Linked DNA regions of Homo sapiens: region 2 is linked to region 1. Evidence: fine-mapped expression QTL. Tissue or cell type: fibroblasts. Region 1 holds a variant in brackets; the other region holds the start of a gene. All regions are shown on one strand. Distances are from middle to middle.

Region 1 (8,103 bases):
ATGTATTAGTCTGTTCTCACATTGCTGTAAAGAAATACCTGAGACTGGGTAATTTATAAAGAAAAGAGGTTTAACTGGCTCCTGGTTCTGCAGGCTGTACAAGAAGCATGGCAGCTTCTGCTTGCCTTCTGGGGAGGTCTCAGGGAGCTTTCAGTCATGGTGGAAGGCGAAGGGGAAGCAGGCATTTTACATTTTACATGGTGGGAGCAAGAGGAAGAGAGAGAAGGGGAAAGGTGCCACAAACTTTTAAACAACCAGATCTCATGATAACTCACTCACTGACTATCACAAGAAGAGCTCTGAGGGAATGGTTCCAAACCATTCATGAGAATTTTGCCCCTATAATCCAATCACCTCCCTCCAGGCCCTACCTCCAACACTGGGAATTACAATTTGACATGGGATTTGTTGGAGACACAGATCCAAATCATATCACTGTACTTCTATCATTTTCATCTTTCATCATCTATACATTCTTTGAAATCATAAAGTATTTACTGGATTCTCTTTTCCACAAAGTAATCCTTATTCTGATGTATGTTTTTCATTTGCTTTTTGCTTATGTGTCTTAGTCCATTTTGTGCTGCTATAAAAGAATACCTAAGACTGGGTAATTTATACAAAGCAAGAAGTTATTGGCTCCTGGTTCTAGTCCAAGAGCATGGTGCTGGCATCTGCTAAGAATTTGATGAGAGTCTTCTTATGGCATCATCCCATGGCAGAAGGTGGAAGGGCAAGAGAGAGCAAGAGAGAGTCGTCAGGAAGGGAACCTAACTTGTCCTTTTATAAGTAGCATATTCCTGAGATAATAGCATTAATTTATTCATGAGAACAGAGCCCTCATGACCTACTCACTTCTTAAAAATCCCACCTCTCAACACTGTTGCATTGGGAATCAAGATCCCAGTACATGAACTTTGGGGGACACATTTAAACTATAGCAGGTGGGGACCACTTATGATCTAGGAGCAAAGTGAAGGAAGGGGCAAAGTGAATGGAAGTTTCACCATTCAGGGAACAAATTTACTTTTTTCCCTGCCATGGTTAACATTTGGTATTTAGCCTTCCAGACAGATACATACATATTTTTTCCTCACAAAATGAGATTACCATATACATGCTATTTTTTTTTTTTTTTTGAGACAGAGTCTCACTCTGTTGCCCAGCCTGGAGTGCAGTGGCACCATCTCGGCTCACTGCAATCTGCGCCTCCCAGGTTCAAGCAATTCTCATGTCTCAGTCTTCTGAGCAGCTGGGATTGCAGGCACACACCACCACACCCAGCTAATTCTTGTATTTTTAGTAGAGATGGGGTTTTGCCATGTTGGCCAGGCTGGTCTCTACCTCCTGACCTCAAGCGATTCACCTGCCTCAGCTTCCCAAAGTGCTGGGATTACAGGCGTGAGTCAGAGTGCCTGGTCTGACATGCTATTTTGTAATCTGCTTTCTTCATGTCATACATGCCATGCATGTTTTTATGTCATCAAATATACTACTCTCACATTATTTAAGTAGCATTCCATTGGCACAATATATCACATTTTGTTTAATCCGATCCCCTATTCATGGACATTTCTGTTGTTTACAGTAATTTATCATTGGAGTCAAACTGCTGCACAATTTTCATTTTCATTTTAATTTTTTTGAGACAGAGTCTCACTCTGTTGCCCAGACTGGAGTGCAGTGGTGCGACCTTGGTTCACCGCAACCTCTGCCTCCCAGGCTCAAGCCATTCTCCTGCCTCAGCCTCCCAAGTAGCTGGGACCACCGGCATGTGGCACCACGCCCAGCTAATTTTTGTATTTTTAGTAGAGATGGGGTTGTACTGTTGGTCAGGCTGGTCTCGAACTCCTGACCTCAAGTGATCTGCACACCTAGGCCTCCCAAAGTGCTGGAATTACAGGCTTGAGCCACCGTGCCCAGCCAGACCTCCTCTTAATCCCTGTGTTTCTAATTCCACATAATTTACTGGCCCCCTTAAGGTCTGTGTCCCCAAGTCAAGAGCCTTTCGGATTTAGTTCCTTCGAGGCCCGAATCCCCAGTTTCCTGCTCAGGCTGGTGGTCACCCTGGCTTTAAGGAGGGGAGGAAGGGGCCTATGATCTAGCAATTCAATATTCAGCTGTTTCCACCCCCACCTTACACACAGTCTCTGGTGCCTTCATGGAGTCTGCAGACGTGTCAAACCATATCTTCCTGCGCTTTGCTACCTTAGTTGCTTCTCTCAGCTACTGATGTTTCCTGACTCACGTGGGTGACGGTGAGGATAGGCCCTTTCTATTCCTTCACTGGCCTTTCAGTAGGGTTTTGGGTGGGGGAGGATAAAAATACCACCTCGTTTAACTGGAAGTTGCATTAATTATACAAAGGTCTTTCTGATCATTGCTCATCTTTGAAAGAGACCAGTTATTGGTTAAAAATTAATCTAGAGAAAGATGAGGCAAGTGACCTGGAACAGACCACAGTTTTCAGCTGACTTTTTTTTTCAAACAACCTATCACCAAATGTGTTTTCTCCTCTGTCTTGGGCCATATCCCTTCTTTTCAGGATGTAGGAGGGCAGTGTAGCAACAGACTCTAAGATAGACTTTCTAATGATTGCTGTTCCCTCAGGCCCTCTCCTCTGGCTCCCTCTCCAGCAGCAGTTTTCTCAGCTGGGAGGCTGAGACATAGATGGTTAACATGGATCTACACATAACTTCTCTGTTAGTTCCACCTCTCCCACTCCCTGCAGCCTGCAGGGTGGAGCTGACTTCTCTGGAGTCATTCCAGCTGCTTGCCTTTTGTGGTTCTAAACAATGGATCGTTAAGTTGGGCCTTCCAGAGCAGTGCCCTTATCTATACGTGGCAGTTTGGAATTGTGCCGCCACCTAGCCTTTGAAGCTAAAGACAGGTACAGGAATGTTCAGCACTGTCTGTAATAGCAAAAAGCTGAAAACATGCAAATGACTGTCACCAGGAGGATGAGTAAATACGTCACATACTCATATCATCGAACACAATTCTTCAGTGAAAATGAGTGAAACTATCACTGCACATGGTAGTAGTTGGGTGTGTGTGTATGTGTGTGTGTGGGGGGGGCAGAGTCTCACTCTGTCCTCCAGGCTGGAGTGCAGTGACGCAATCTCGGCTCACTGTAACAATCGATTCTCCTGCATCAGCCTCCCGAGTAGCTGCGATAACAAGTGCACGCCACCATGCCCGGCTAATTTTTGTATTTTTGGTAGAGATGGAATTTCACCACATTGGCCAGGCTGGTCTTGAACTCCTGATGTCAAGTGATCTGCCTGCCTCGGCCTCTCAAAGTGCTGGGATTACAGGCAGCGTGCCATCACACCCGGCCGCAGTTGAGTCTTAAAAACACAGTTAAGTGAAAAAAGTTAGTCACAGAAGACTATATACTTGACTGAATGATTTCATTTATATAAAATGCAAAAGTTCCCTGGAACTGAAACATATTGTGTGGGAAAATATACACGAAGAATAACACTCAGGAAAAGAAGGGAATTATTATTAAGTCAAATTCAGGATGGTGGTTATCACAGGAGGGAGAGGAAGAGGTGACTGAGGAGGGGCACAAAGCAGTCTTCAAAGTCACCAGTTAAATTCCATTTTCTTTTATTTTGAGACAGGGTGTTGCTATGTTGCTCAAGCTGGCCTTGAACTCCCAGACTTAAGGGATCCTCCCACCTCAGCCTCCCAAGTAGCTGGAACTACAGGAGCACACCACCAAGCCCGGCTTCTATTTTCTTAAAGCTGGTTAATAGGTACATGTTTTCATTTTTGTTATTAGTGAAACTACATACATGTTAAGTATATTCTTTTGTTGGAACAATATTTCAAACTAATAACTGGAGTGATTACTCTCTTTTTTCCTCATCTTTTAAAAGATGGAGTTGTTTCTCTTTTTCATTTTTGGAGAGTTTTAAGGTGAGGAGAAGAGTAAAAAATAAACTACTTTTTTTTTTTTTGAGACAGTGTTTTGTTCTGTCGCCCAAGCTAGAGTGCAGTGGTGTCATCTCAGCTCACTGCAACCTCTGCTTCTCGGGTTCAAGTGATTCTCGTGCCTCAGCCTCCCAGGTAGCTGGGATTATAGGCTCCTGCCACCACGCCCAGCTGATTTTTGTATTTTTAGTAGAGACGGGGTTTCACCATGTTGGCCAGGCTGGTCTTGAACTCCTGACTTCAAGTGATCTGCCCACCTCAGACTCCCAAAGGGCAGGGATTACAGTTGTGAGCCACTGTGCCCGGCATTTTTTGGTTTGCTTGTTTGTTTTTGAAATGGAGTTTTGCTCTTGTCACCCAGGCTGGAGTGCGGTGGCCATGATCTTGGCTCACTGCAACCTCCACGTCCCGGGTTCAAGCGATTCTCCTATCTCAGACTCCCAAGGAGCTGGGATTACAGGTGCCTGCCACCATGCCCGGCTAATTTTTGTATCGTTAGTAGAGACAGGGTTTTGCCATGTTGGCCAGGCTGGTCTCGAACTCCTGATCTCAGGTGATCCGCCCATCTTGGCCTCCCAAAGTGCTGGAATCACAGGTGTGAGCCACCGTGCCCGGCCAAAAAATACTTTTATCACTCCCTCGCTGCAGCTGTCTATGACTTTCTCCAGGGGGTAAATAATTCACATACACAGCCTGTGAAGGCACTGGCATTATGGACCTTGGGTTTCCAAATAACACTGAAGAAAGCGAGTCCATGGAAAACTGATAATCAAGAAGCTTTATTACTTCCAGGATTGCTTATTTTTAAAACCCCTGAAAGGAAAATGGCTTTAATTCAGAAACTGGCTTGTGGAGTGGTGGTGGGGCAGCGGCGAGGCAGGGTTGATACAACGGCAACTGGAGGAAGAAGTTACTGTGAGGGGAGGCCCACCCGCATCCGGTGCCCCAGTGGACT[G/A]GTGCCACCTCAGCTGGCATGACACCTGCTAGAGCTGTGGGTATTTCTCCTATTCAGGAGCTCTGGGTCTGTTGATGCCCGCATATGTGAATTGGGCCCCAGGGCTCTATGCCACGGCCTGGAAGAGGCTTCATGTCAGAACTTGATGGATGGGGGTGGGATGGGGGTGGGAGGGAGGTGGGGCAGGCACTATGCCAGGAAAGGTCAACAGAGTCTTGTTGTGCCTGGGAGGGAATTTGGACTTTATCCTGAGACAAATGAGGAACTGTTAAAGGGTTTCAGCCAGGAAAAGGCAGGATAATTTTTTTTTTTTTCTGATAGAGTCTTGCTCGGTCACCCAGGCTGAAGTGCAGTGGTGCAATCGTAGCTCACTGCAGCCTCTGCCTCCTGGGCTCAAGTGATCCTCCAGCCTCAGCTTCTCGAATAGCTGGGACCACAGGTGCATGCCCCCACGTCTGGTTTATTTTTTATTAATATTGTTTTGTAAAGATAGGGTCTCACTGAGTGCCCAGTCTAGTCTCAAACTCCTGGTCTCAAGCAATCCTCCTGCTTCTACCTCCCACAGTACTGGGATTACAGGTATGAGCCACTGCAGCCTGCCCAGGATAAGATTTGACTGAGAAAATACATAATGAAAAAATGCTGGGCACAGTAAAACTTCAGTGACTCATTTAAAGGAAGCTATACTGTATTCATCCCATCAGCAGCTACATAGATTATGACAATGTCCATATGTAGGCAAAAGATATTTTCATTCTACAGACAATACTTAGGACATGTAAGGATTTAGGAACATTTGGCAAAGACTCTGTGCCCTAACCCCCCACTCCCCTAGGACTCAAGACTTACGGGTTAGGCATTGCTGATCCAGTTAATGGCAATGCTAAATTGTTCTTTTTTTTTTTTTTTTTTTTTGAGATGGAGTTTCGCTCTTGTCATCCACCCAGGCTGGAGTGCAGTGGCGCGATCTTGGCTCACTGCAACCTCCACCTCCCGGGTTCAAGCAATTCTCCTGCCTCAGTCTCCGGAGTAGCTGGGATTACAGATGCCTGCCACCACGCCTAGCTAATTTTTTGTATTTTCACCATGTTGGCCAGGCTGGTCTCGAACTTGTGACCTCATGTGATCCACTCTCCTCAGCCTCCCAGAGTGCTGGAATTACAGGTGTGAGCCAGTACCCCCAGCCTGAACTGCTCTTTTTGACAGCAATAAACAAGTTCAGCTTCATCCTTCCTTAGGTTGGTAAGACCGTGTCTCCAACATCAAGGGAAAGCATGCCTTCCTATTTGTTATAAGGGACCCACAACCAAGTTGCCATTTAAATATATGTGAAAAACAAAAGAGGATCTAATACCCAACATGCATTTATACTATTTAGGACTGTTAGCAAGACTCTATTGCCCATGTGATTTTATAAATAGTATTATGACAACAGTTTTGAATGTGTCTGACTGCACATTGACTCATTTAATCCTCACAACGTCTGCTGGGGTAGGTGCTGTTATTGCAGTTGGCATAAACTACAATTAATTATGTAATTTCTTGTTGAATATTCATGTTCTGTGATCAGTTCCATGAGAGCGGGAAGCTCGTCTTGTTTATCCTTGTATCCCTGGTGCCTACAACAGGGCCTGGTATGTGGCAAGCATTCAAAACGTATTTACTGAATAAATTTCGTATTCCCCTTTACAAGTGAGGACAGAAAGGCTTAGAGATGTTAAATAGCTTACCAACCTTTAGGTCACCAGCTAATCCAAACTCACATCTGTTGAACTTTATCTTCTTACCAGCTCTCAAGTAGTCTAAGGTTTTATAAAGATCACATAGCTTGGTCGAGTTCCTAGCTATTAAGTAGAAAGTTATTGAGAGATTAACAAACACTTTTTTAAAGATTCTTCCTTTGTTTTTAACCATTCTGAAAACATAAAACAGAATTCAGAGGAGAGCAGTAGTGGAATGGTTATGTTTAAACTTGCCATGTTTCATAAAGACATTACATTGAGAAATTCACACCTGGCATTTGAGAACAAAAGCTGGCGTAGAACTTGGAGGAAGTATTATTAGGAATTCACCCAACTAAATCTTCCTAAGCTTATTATCTATAAAGCTCATGTTTTATTAAAATATAGCTCATATGGCTTTATAGCTCTTTCTCCTCAACTGAAATCTTTGGTGGGGTGGGGGGCGGCCTCCAGTTTTCATAGGCCACCTGGTATTGATCATTCTTACCTTACTTGGTTAAAACAGTTGGCCAAGGAAGCCTAGGTCCTGATCCCAGCCCCTTCACCATACCCAGCCCTGCCTCGGTACAAATTTCCTTACAAAATGCCCAATACTCCAAGGCCTCTGGAAGAAGCATGGGAAACTAAGATTACTGTTTTCCATAGGAAAGGTATTGAAGTAACTTTCACAAGCTACCTATGGTAAAAGAGGGAATATAAAGATTTGGAGAAAGGGCTCTAGTGGGAGTAAGTGACAAGTCCTGGCCTATTCCCATTCCATCCCATTTCTAGGCAGGAGTCTAGCCAAGCTGCCAATCGGGCCCCCGCCAGACAAGACAAGAGCAACTGATGTGTGAACATGCAGGTGTTACCCTGCCCAAGAGATGAGCCCAGACCTTGTCTTGTCTCTGGGTTCCATCACCCCGAGTGTGAAGAGAATGGGGAACTCCAAGAAACCAGCCTGAGACTTCATACCTTCTCTCTCACTGCAATGTGGGCAGAGGCCCATGTGCAAAGGTCTCAGGAACTTGAATTCCCTGTAGTTTTAGTAACTAATGTTGGTATAGATTTTGATGGTACAACATTTTTTCACATGCATCTTTCCACTGAGGTTGATATACAAATATTACCGTCCCCAAATTAGAGATGAACAAAGAGATTTCATTACTTGTCTAAAGCTGTATCACTCCCTGCATATCCAGCCTCCTGGTGGACTACTGTTCAGTCATGAGTTTGGGTTTTCTCCCTCTTCAAATCAATCATCTGTGACTTTTACATCACTAGTGCTCAATCTTTGGTGGACGCTACGTAGAGAATCTAAGCAACACTTTGGGTTGTCTTTCCAGAAAAAAAGCACATCTATACACACACACACACACACACACACACACACACACACACATCTGTTAGCTCTCAGGACTTTTGGTGATCCCCTGGCGACCATGGACACAGGGCTGAGAATTCTTCTTTTATAAATAATGTATG
Region 2 (8,103 bases), 120 kb before region 1:
ATCGAGAACAAACTCTGGGTCCTCAGCATGTCCATGTTACCTTAACCAGCTTTATATACTTGTCAATGATAGCTTCCTCCTGTGGAAACTTCTCCTTGAGGCCCTGAATGTAGGCTTTCTCTCCACTGTACATGGGGTACTCCTTTCGGCCATTGGGCCCTTCCAGTACCATGATGTCAAAAGGAGAGGACAGGGGAGCCCAGTCCAGCTGCCCTTCAGTGATCTGGTCCAAGATAAAACGGCCAATGCTGCCCTCTTCCATACGCCCAATGTAATGGATTCCTGTTGGGAGATGGAAAAACAAGGTAGTAAAGGGATATGGGGATTGAGCCCTGGAAAGGTGGCTGAGGAAGTGAGGTGGAAGAGTTTATCTGGCCTGGCCAAGTTCACGCCCAGAGTGAGCTGCTCACTCTGTCTGTAGGGAGGTGTCACAGCAGAAACCGCCAGATCGCTGCCCGATTCAACTCCCAGTAGCTATGCTGTCACATAAGAAAACTGCCCAGAGGCTGGGCACGGTGGCTCACACCCATAATCCCAACACTTTGGGAGGCAGAGGGAGGTGGATCACTTGAGGTCAGGAGTTCGAGACCAGCCTGGACAACATGGAGAAACCCCATCTCTACTAAAATACAAAAAAATTAGCGGGGTGTGGTGGCCCACTTGGTGGGATTACTGAGTGTAATCCCAGCCACTCGGGAGACTGAGGCATGAGAATCACGAACTCAGGAGGCAGAGGTTACAGTAAGCTGGGATCACACCACTGCGCTCCAGCCTGGGTGATGAAGTGAGACTCTGTCTGAAACAAACAAAGAAAAAAAGTACCCAGAGAGAAGATGGCACTTCCAAAACAACAGAAATGCTCAGTATCACCCCACAAGGGCTGCTCCAAGCCTCTTCAACATACAGCCATGCTCCCAACCCTTTTCCACACAAGCCTTACCTGTGTCAAATTCAAGGCCATTCTTTCCAAAGGTATGACAGCAGCCCCCTGCCTTGGTATGTTGTTCCAGCACCAGGACTCGCTTGCCAGCTTTAGCTAGAATTGCAGCTGCAGCCAGGCCCCCAAAGCCACTGCCAATTACCACCACATCCAGCTTCTCCGGCACTTGGTTGGCTGAAAAAGCTACAGCAGAAGGGCCAAAGGGTGGGTTTCTCAGGCAGGGGCAGGGAAATAGCAAAGATAGGGAAACCAAAGAAGACTTCTCTAGCTTGTACAGTGCAAGAAACCTCTAGAGTGGTTTGGCACAGAACTCTTGACTAACATGTTTCAAACATTTTACCTGGGAATACTCAGAACCAGCCAGGCAGATTTGGGGTTTTGCTTATTTGTTTTTTGAGACAAGGTCTCACTATGGCCCAGGATGAAGTGCAGTGATGTGATCACAGCTCACTGCAGCCTTGAACTCCTGGCCTCAAGCAATCCTCCTGCCTCTGGTTCCCGAGTAGCTGGGACTACAGGTGCATGCCACCATGCCGGGCCATTTTATTTTTATTTTTATTTTTATGTGTTTAATTATTTTTTAAGACGGAGTCTCACTCTGTCACCCAGGCTGGAGTGCAGTGGCGCAATCTCCGCTTACTGCAAGCTCCGCCTCCTGGGTTCACATCATTCTCCTGCTTCAGCCTCCCGAGTAGCTGGGACTACAGGTGCCCACCACCACGCCCGGCTAATTTTTTTTTTTAATATTTTTTAGTAGAGATGGGGTTTCACCATGTTAGCCAGGATGGTCTCGATCTCCTGACCTCGTGATCCGCCTGCCTCGGCCTCCCAAAGTGCTGGGATTACATGCATGAGCCACCGCGCCCCGCCTATTTTATGTTTTATAGAGCCAAAGTCTTGCTATGTTGCCCAGGCTGATCTTGAACTCCTGGCCTCAAGTGATCCACCCACCTCGGCCTCCCAAATTGCTGGGATTACAGGCATGAGCCAACACACCAGCCCACAAGCCGGGTTTCTTTGGAAGATGCAGGGTCTGCAAGCAATAGTGGAATAGCTGGGTCTTATGGTGGCTCTTCCAGGTCCTGATGAAAAGGCTTGGGCAGGACAGAACTGCTCAGAGGCTGCAGCTCTGAGAAATCACAGCACCAGCCCCTCCCATAGGGAAGGTCTGGGGGCAGTGCTGAGGGAGGCAGCACCTTCTCAGAAGACAAAACTGGATAGCAAGTGGTGCTATATGGGTACTTCCGACACAAGATCTGTTCTTTAACAATCACTGGCAAAGAACTGAGATCTGGGATGTTTCAAGATACAAGAGAACTTGGCAAACTGCTTATTTTTTTAATGTTTTTAGAGAGATCAATAGTAAAAAAAAATTTCACATGTAAGTATATAAGATAAATACATGAAACAAGTGTCACAATGCAATACTTAGTGGAACTATGTATAATGCACTCTGATATTTTCTATTCTACTGCATTCTAAAATACTAGTTGTGGCCAGGCGTGATGGCTCACGCCTGTAATCCCAACACTTTGGGAGGCCGAGGTGGGCGGATCGCTTGAGGCCAGGAGTTCGAGAGCCTTGACAACATGGTGAAACCCTGTCTCTACTAAAAATACAAAAATTAGCTGGGCATGCCCACTACTCGGGAGGCTGAGGCAGGATAATCACTTGAACCCAGGAGGCGGAAGTTGCGGTGAGCGGAGATCGCGCCACTGCACTCTAGCATGGACAATAGAGCGAGACTCTGTTTCAATAAATAAATAAATAATGCCAGTTGCAACTCACTAAATTGATTTCATAGCCCACTAATAGATCACAATCCGGTTTGAAAAGCAGTTAAGCTAGTCATCTCATTTTTAGACCAGCCCAGGTAGGTGCTAATGGTTATGCAGCAAATTAGTGACAGAGTCCAAGCTAAAACTCAGTTCTCAGAAGTCCAGATGATTAGTCCTTCCACTTAGAACAGTACTGTCTCCGATTGTGTAGCAAGATATGACACGGAGAATTCTAAAATTTACAAGTGAGAGGGACTCCGTAGATCAAACAGGTGATCCATTATTTTTTAAAGCAGCAGAACTCTTTAAACTCTAGAAGCAACCACAAAATATGTTTTAAAGATGAGAGTGGAGAGCAGGCTCTGAGCCTGAGGCGCCTTGTTGAACCTCTGCCAATGTTTCAGAACTAGGGTTCAATCCTTACGATTTGGGACCATGCAAAGCCTGTTAAATCACCGGACGGGCAAAACGCAATTTCCTACGCATTTCTGTGCTGCTCCCCCACACCCCTGAGCTCGCATGGGAGGGTAGGTGAAAAAGTTAAGGTCCTGGAACCAAGTGGAGGAATGAGTCACGGGGATTATCAGTTCCACGAGCCACGGGGATTACAAGTGGCAGGGCGGGTGCCAACACCTTGCAAACCAAGGACAATGACCACACCCTTGGGACTACTATTCCCGGGGCCTACTAGGGCAAAGGCTATCGACAGTGTTGCACACTAAAGCGGGGCTCCTCCACGTGCAAGGAAGCCCTCCTAGTACTTTACATATGGGGAAACTAAGGCCCACGTCTGGTAGCGGCTGCCTTGGCAAAATGAGAACCCAAATCTGTGAGAAAGCCTCGAGTGCAGCCCCGGACCCCAGGGTCCCTCCTGCTACCTTGTTTGAGAACCTTCTTCCTGGCCTCCTTGTCAGTTACCAGGGGCGCTGGGGGCCGTTTGACATCTTCGGAGAAAGGATTCGGGGAGCTGCCAGAGAATAGTCCCAAGTAAACTTTGCAGAGGACGGCCAGCAGCAGCACAGCCAGGAGCAGCACCAGCGGAAGCCACATCACGCCGGCGTCGGGTCGGGTAAATGGGACAGCTCCGACTGCGCTCAGCCTCTAGGACTGTGGCTCCGCCCGGGCTAGTTCGCTCTCCAGTCAGGAGGCGGAGGCAGCTTTGAGCACTGATTAACCAGCCAGCCAGCGAAGAGCCAACTCTCAGGTGATGATTGACCCTCCCGGCTCTCCGTACTTCTTTTGGGTTTCCATTGCCTACTGGGAAATGTAGTTCTCGGGGCCAGGGGAGCCGGCACGGAAGCGGCTGTGCGCATGAGCAGATGAGGCCTAGCCGAGGCGGCGGGACCCCCAAGTTTGGAAAGCTCTTTTAACGGTGAGAACGCGTTAACACTTGCCAAGGGGAGTGGTTGGTGCCTGTGCGGAGCTAGCAGCCGGCCTGAGGAGGGAGGGAGAATGTGATCCGGTGGAAATTATCACTATGGGGCGAGACAAGGCCGAGAGTTGTAAGACTGAAAGAGAATCCCGACTGGGAGACAGGAGTCCTGAGTTCTGGTCCTGGCTCTGCCCTGGACTCGCTGCCTTGAGGTGTTAAATTGCTTTCCTCGTCTTACGCCTCCAGGCTATGCGAAAGTTCTGTCCAAAGGCTGCTCACAGCCCCTGTCTGACTGGTTGTCATGATGAATTGAGCTCTCTGTTACCTGCGCATCACAACCGGTGAGCGTCTGTCTCTGTGCCCCTCAAAGTGGCCCATAGTTTTGTCCTGGGGGCCCGCCTGGGACGGAGTCCTCTATGGCGGGTCCCTAATGACACCCCATCCGTGGGGAACCTGGGGGACGGGGAGCCGCCCATGGACAAGCATGGTGAAAGGATCAGCTAAGGGCCCATCTAATTTAAATTCCTATGCAGAGAATCTAACCTCCAGCAAGCAGTTGAAGAATCATACCCCCTCCTTGCCTAAAGAGGGTGCATAATGAATACTTGATTGGAGAAGGATCCATTTTTACAGGAAGGCCGTTTCCTTAGGTCCAACTATCAGGAATTTGCCTTTGAGTACTTCCTTGTTTAATGGAATTGTTGCTCTTTTCTTCTCTGCTACAGATAGTAACTGTCCCTACTGAAGGCCCCAGGAGTGCTCCAGCCAGGTGTGGAAAGCTGGTCACGATTCTATGCTACTTGGTTCATTTTCTACACAGCAACAGAAGAGCCCTCCTGAGATTGCTATTACCATACCCGCCTGTCACCTTGCCAAGGCTGGCCAATGTGTGTTTTGTCATAGGCTGTCATGGAGGCCATGATGGAGGAAAAGGAAAGGGGAGGCAGATGTTGAGGCCCCAGAGGCCACAGTGAGAGCAGTTTAGTTCCTGGGGTGCCAGGACTAAGGGGGCATTGCCCTGTCCCCCGGATTACAGTGAGCCACATGTCAAGCCCAAGAGCCAGGAGGTATTCTTCCTCTCAGTGTTAATAATCAAAGCATCCTGACACCAGCAGCCAGTTTTTATGGCATCCTGGAGGGCTGACCTCATAGAGAGGCTACCCTCCTTCCTTAGTCACCCAAAGTTGTGAACTATGATTGTCAGTTGTGTGTGGGCCATCTGCCCACTTAGGATGCAATTTTTGATGTGACAGACATTCCGGATGTCCAATTCCCCTGTGATGAGGTATGAGCCTTGTCCAGCCCTTTTCCTGAGGGAAGCAATGTCAGATGAAAGACTTAGAATTGCCCAAACTGGCTAGCCAGCTGCCACATGCACAGTATTGCTGATAACTGAGAAAGGTTAGAACATCGTGTTGCATTTTGAATTTCTACCATTGTTGGAACCAGGTCTAGTATTATAAGCCCCTGACCCAGCCTGTGTGTGAGGCCTAAACAAAGCCTGAGCACTTCAGCTAAGACCACCCACCAAGGTGACACCTTTAGCCTCACGCCTTTGATAAGCTGGCCCAGGTCCCAGTAACTCCATTGTCAGAAACAGACCCCATCCCTTCTAGTGGTGCTGCTGCCTTTTGGACACAGAATCCAGCTCACAGTCCCCTGTGTGGTCCCCTTTTGGCCATCCTGTGGCTTGGGTAGTAAGAGGTAAGCATTTGGCTGAGGCAAGTTGTTCATTCAGAATAAATTCACAGCTGCTTAAATTTTGTCAACAGGCCGAGCGTGTTGGCTCATGCCTGTAATCCCAGCACTTTGGAAGGCCGAGGCAGGCGGATCACGAGGTCAGGAGTTCAAGACCAGCCTAACCAACATAGTGAAACCCCATCTCTACTAAAAATACAAAAATTAGCAGGGTGTGGTGGCGCACGCCTGTAATTCCAGCTACTCGGGAGACTGGGACAGGAGAATCGCTTGAACCCGGGAGGCGGAGGTTGCAGTGAGCCGAGATCGCACGGCTGCACTCCAGCCTGGGCAACAGGGCAAGACTCCAACTCAAAAAAAAAAAAAAATTGTCAACAGAGGCATAACTGAATGGTGAAACCAGTTTTCTTTTTCAATTTCTTTTTTTTCTTTTGTGCAGAGCTGAGGCTTCGAAGACCTCAGAGGACTTCTCTCAGCACTCACAGAAACCTCCTACACCCTCGGATGGCACAAAGGGACTGTTTTCTTACTCTTAGTCTGAGTGACTGCCAAGGAAGGCAAAGGTAGAGCAACTGGATCTCTGGCTCTCCACATAGCTTCTGATCTCAGACCTTACTAAAATGCTTTCTGGGCCCAAGGACAAAGCTCACATGAACAAATGATTTTGAGTCATGAATGAAAAATCTTGCTCTTTCCATAGTAAAGAAGAATTAAGAGATGGACAGGTAAGCATGCACTCTTATTTGGGAAAGGTGGTGTTGGTTTGAGATATATCATTAAGTATAGTAAGAATATATTAAGAGAATATTTGGAAAAATTTAGAAACCCTCATTATAGTTCTCTTTGTTCTGTAAGAAGGAGCTTCTATTCACCTCAGGGTCAATTGCTTTTCCTAATAGCTTGTTTTGTAAGTGAGTTATGAGATTTTTGTTTTCTTTTTGCTTGGGTAGTGGGGAGAATTTCATTGAGGAATCACCCAAGAAATCTGTATTTCATTGATTTGGATCATTACCTTACTAGCCTCTTCCCTGTGAAACGCTTGCTTTGGCCTGATCATCCTCAGGACTCAGTTCAATGTGATATGTCTTTGTATGAGCCGGGCAGCTAACCCTACATGCCTTACCTTTCACACTACTTTGCCCACCCAAAAATGGTCTTAAATGGAGGCTGTGGGATTCAGTGGCCAGACTGGGACAAAGCCTTTGCTTTGGGTCTCCAGAAAGATTTTCTTCACTGTAGTAATATGCGAACTGTTCCAAAGAGGGAAGTCTTTGGACACTGGAGGGGACTGAATTGGAGAAGGAAAGGAAGGATGAAATGAATCTCAGGTACACAGATGCCTGCAGGAAGTTGTTCAGCACAATGAATCACCAAATATTTTAGAGATAAAATTTCAACAAAAATTTGAGAAATATATTTTGTGCTTAGTACTGTGCCAATGGTTGTGAAACATATAAAAGAAATATAAGAGCCTGGAGGCAGTGGCTCACGCCTGTAATCCCAACACTTTGGGAGGCTGAGGTGGGCAGATCACTTGAGGTCGGGAGTTGGAGACCAGCCTGGCTAACATGATGAAACCCTGTCTTTACTAAAAATACAAAATTATCTGGGCATGGTGGTGCATGCCTGTAATCCCAGCTACTCAGGAAGCTGAGGCAAGAGAATCGCTTGAACCCAGGAGGCGGAGGTTGCAGTGAGCTGGGATCACACCATTGCACTCCAGCCTGGGTGACCAAGTGAGACTCTGTCTCCAAAAAAAAAAAAAAAAAAAATGAAAAAAGAAATATAAGAGAAGGTCCTTATGCAGGCCTTTTGCAGAGGAACTTTTGCTGCATACAAGGGTTACTGGACTTAGAGGTGTGAGACAGCATTGTAGCCCCAGCTAGTAAGGTAGGTTGCCTTGAGTAGGTGGAACTGACCTTGATCAGAGAAGAGAGTGGAGGTGTATTCTGGAGGAAAACTACATGAACAAAGGGATGGAAGTGAGGAGAGGGATCTGCAGCAGGTGTGTTGATTGCATTACAGTGGGAAATAAATGCTTAGCCATCATGAGCTCCTTTACCAGGGAGCTTGGTCAGCTGTGAGGTGTTTTGGCCTCCATCCTTGCATCTGGAACATGAAGAAATGAAAGTTGTGTTTAATGAGCATTAGTTGGAAAGGCAAAAAAAAAAAGCAGAAGGATTAGAGTAACAGGATGATCTGGGATTCCAGGGCCTTGGCATAATACATTCACATGGTTCAAAATGCAAAAAGTACAGAACGATATATGTATTGTGAAGAAACCACCTTCCACCCTTGTCCCCCCAGCCACTCAG

The links. PIP is the estimated chance that this variant, and not a neighbour inherited with it, causes the effect.
Region 2: RETSAT starts here. The variant in region 1 is fine-mapped to the expression of RETSAT in fibroblasts (GTEx, PIP 0.99).

What each region holds. Positions count from the first base shown.
Region 1 is chr2:85,466,088-85,474,190 of GRCh38, forward strand. No RefSeq gene overlaps it. Among named protein-coding and RNA genes, the nearest start is that of SH2D6, 51 kb to the left of the region's middle. The variant G/A (reference allele first, on the strand shown) is at 4,898.
Region 2 is chr2:85,350,740-85,358,842 of GRCh38, forward strand. RETSAT (retinol saturase) reads right to left here and starts at 3,789. Exons shown (of 11, transcript NM_017750.4): 1 at 3,597-3,789; 2 at 941-1,123; 3 at 41-282. The coding sequence starts at 3,768. It overlaps ELMOD3 (ELMO domain containing 3), which reads left to right and starts at 4,030. Exons shown (of 14, transcript NM_001135022.2): 1 at 4,030-4,090; 2 at 4,337-4,431; 3 at 4,816-4,859; 4 at 6,228-6,513. The coding sequence starts at 6,460. RefSeq lists enhancers at 3,791-4,292, 3,857-4,256, 4,293-4,792, 4,427-4,486.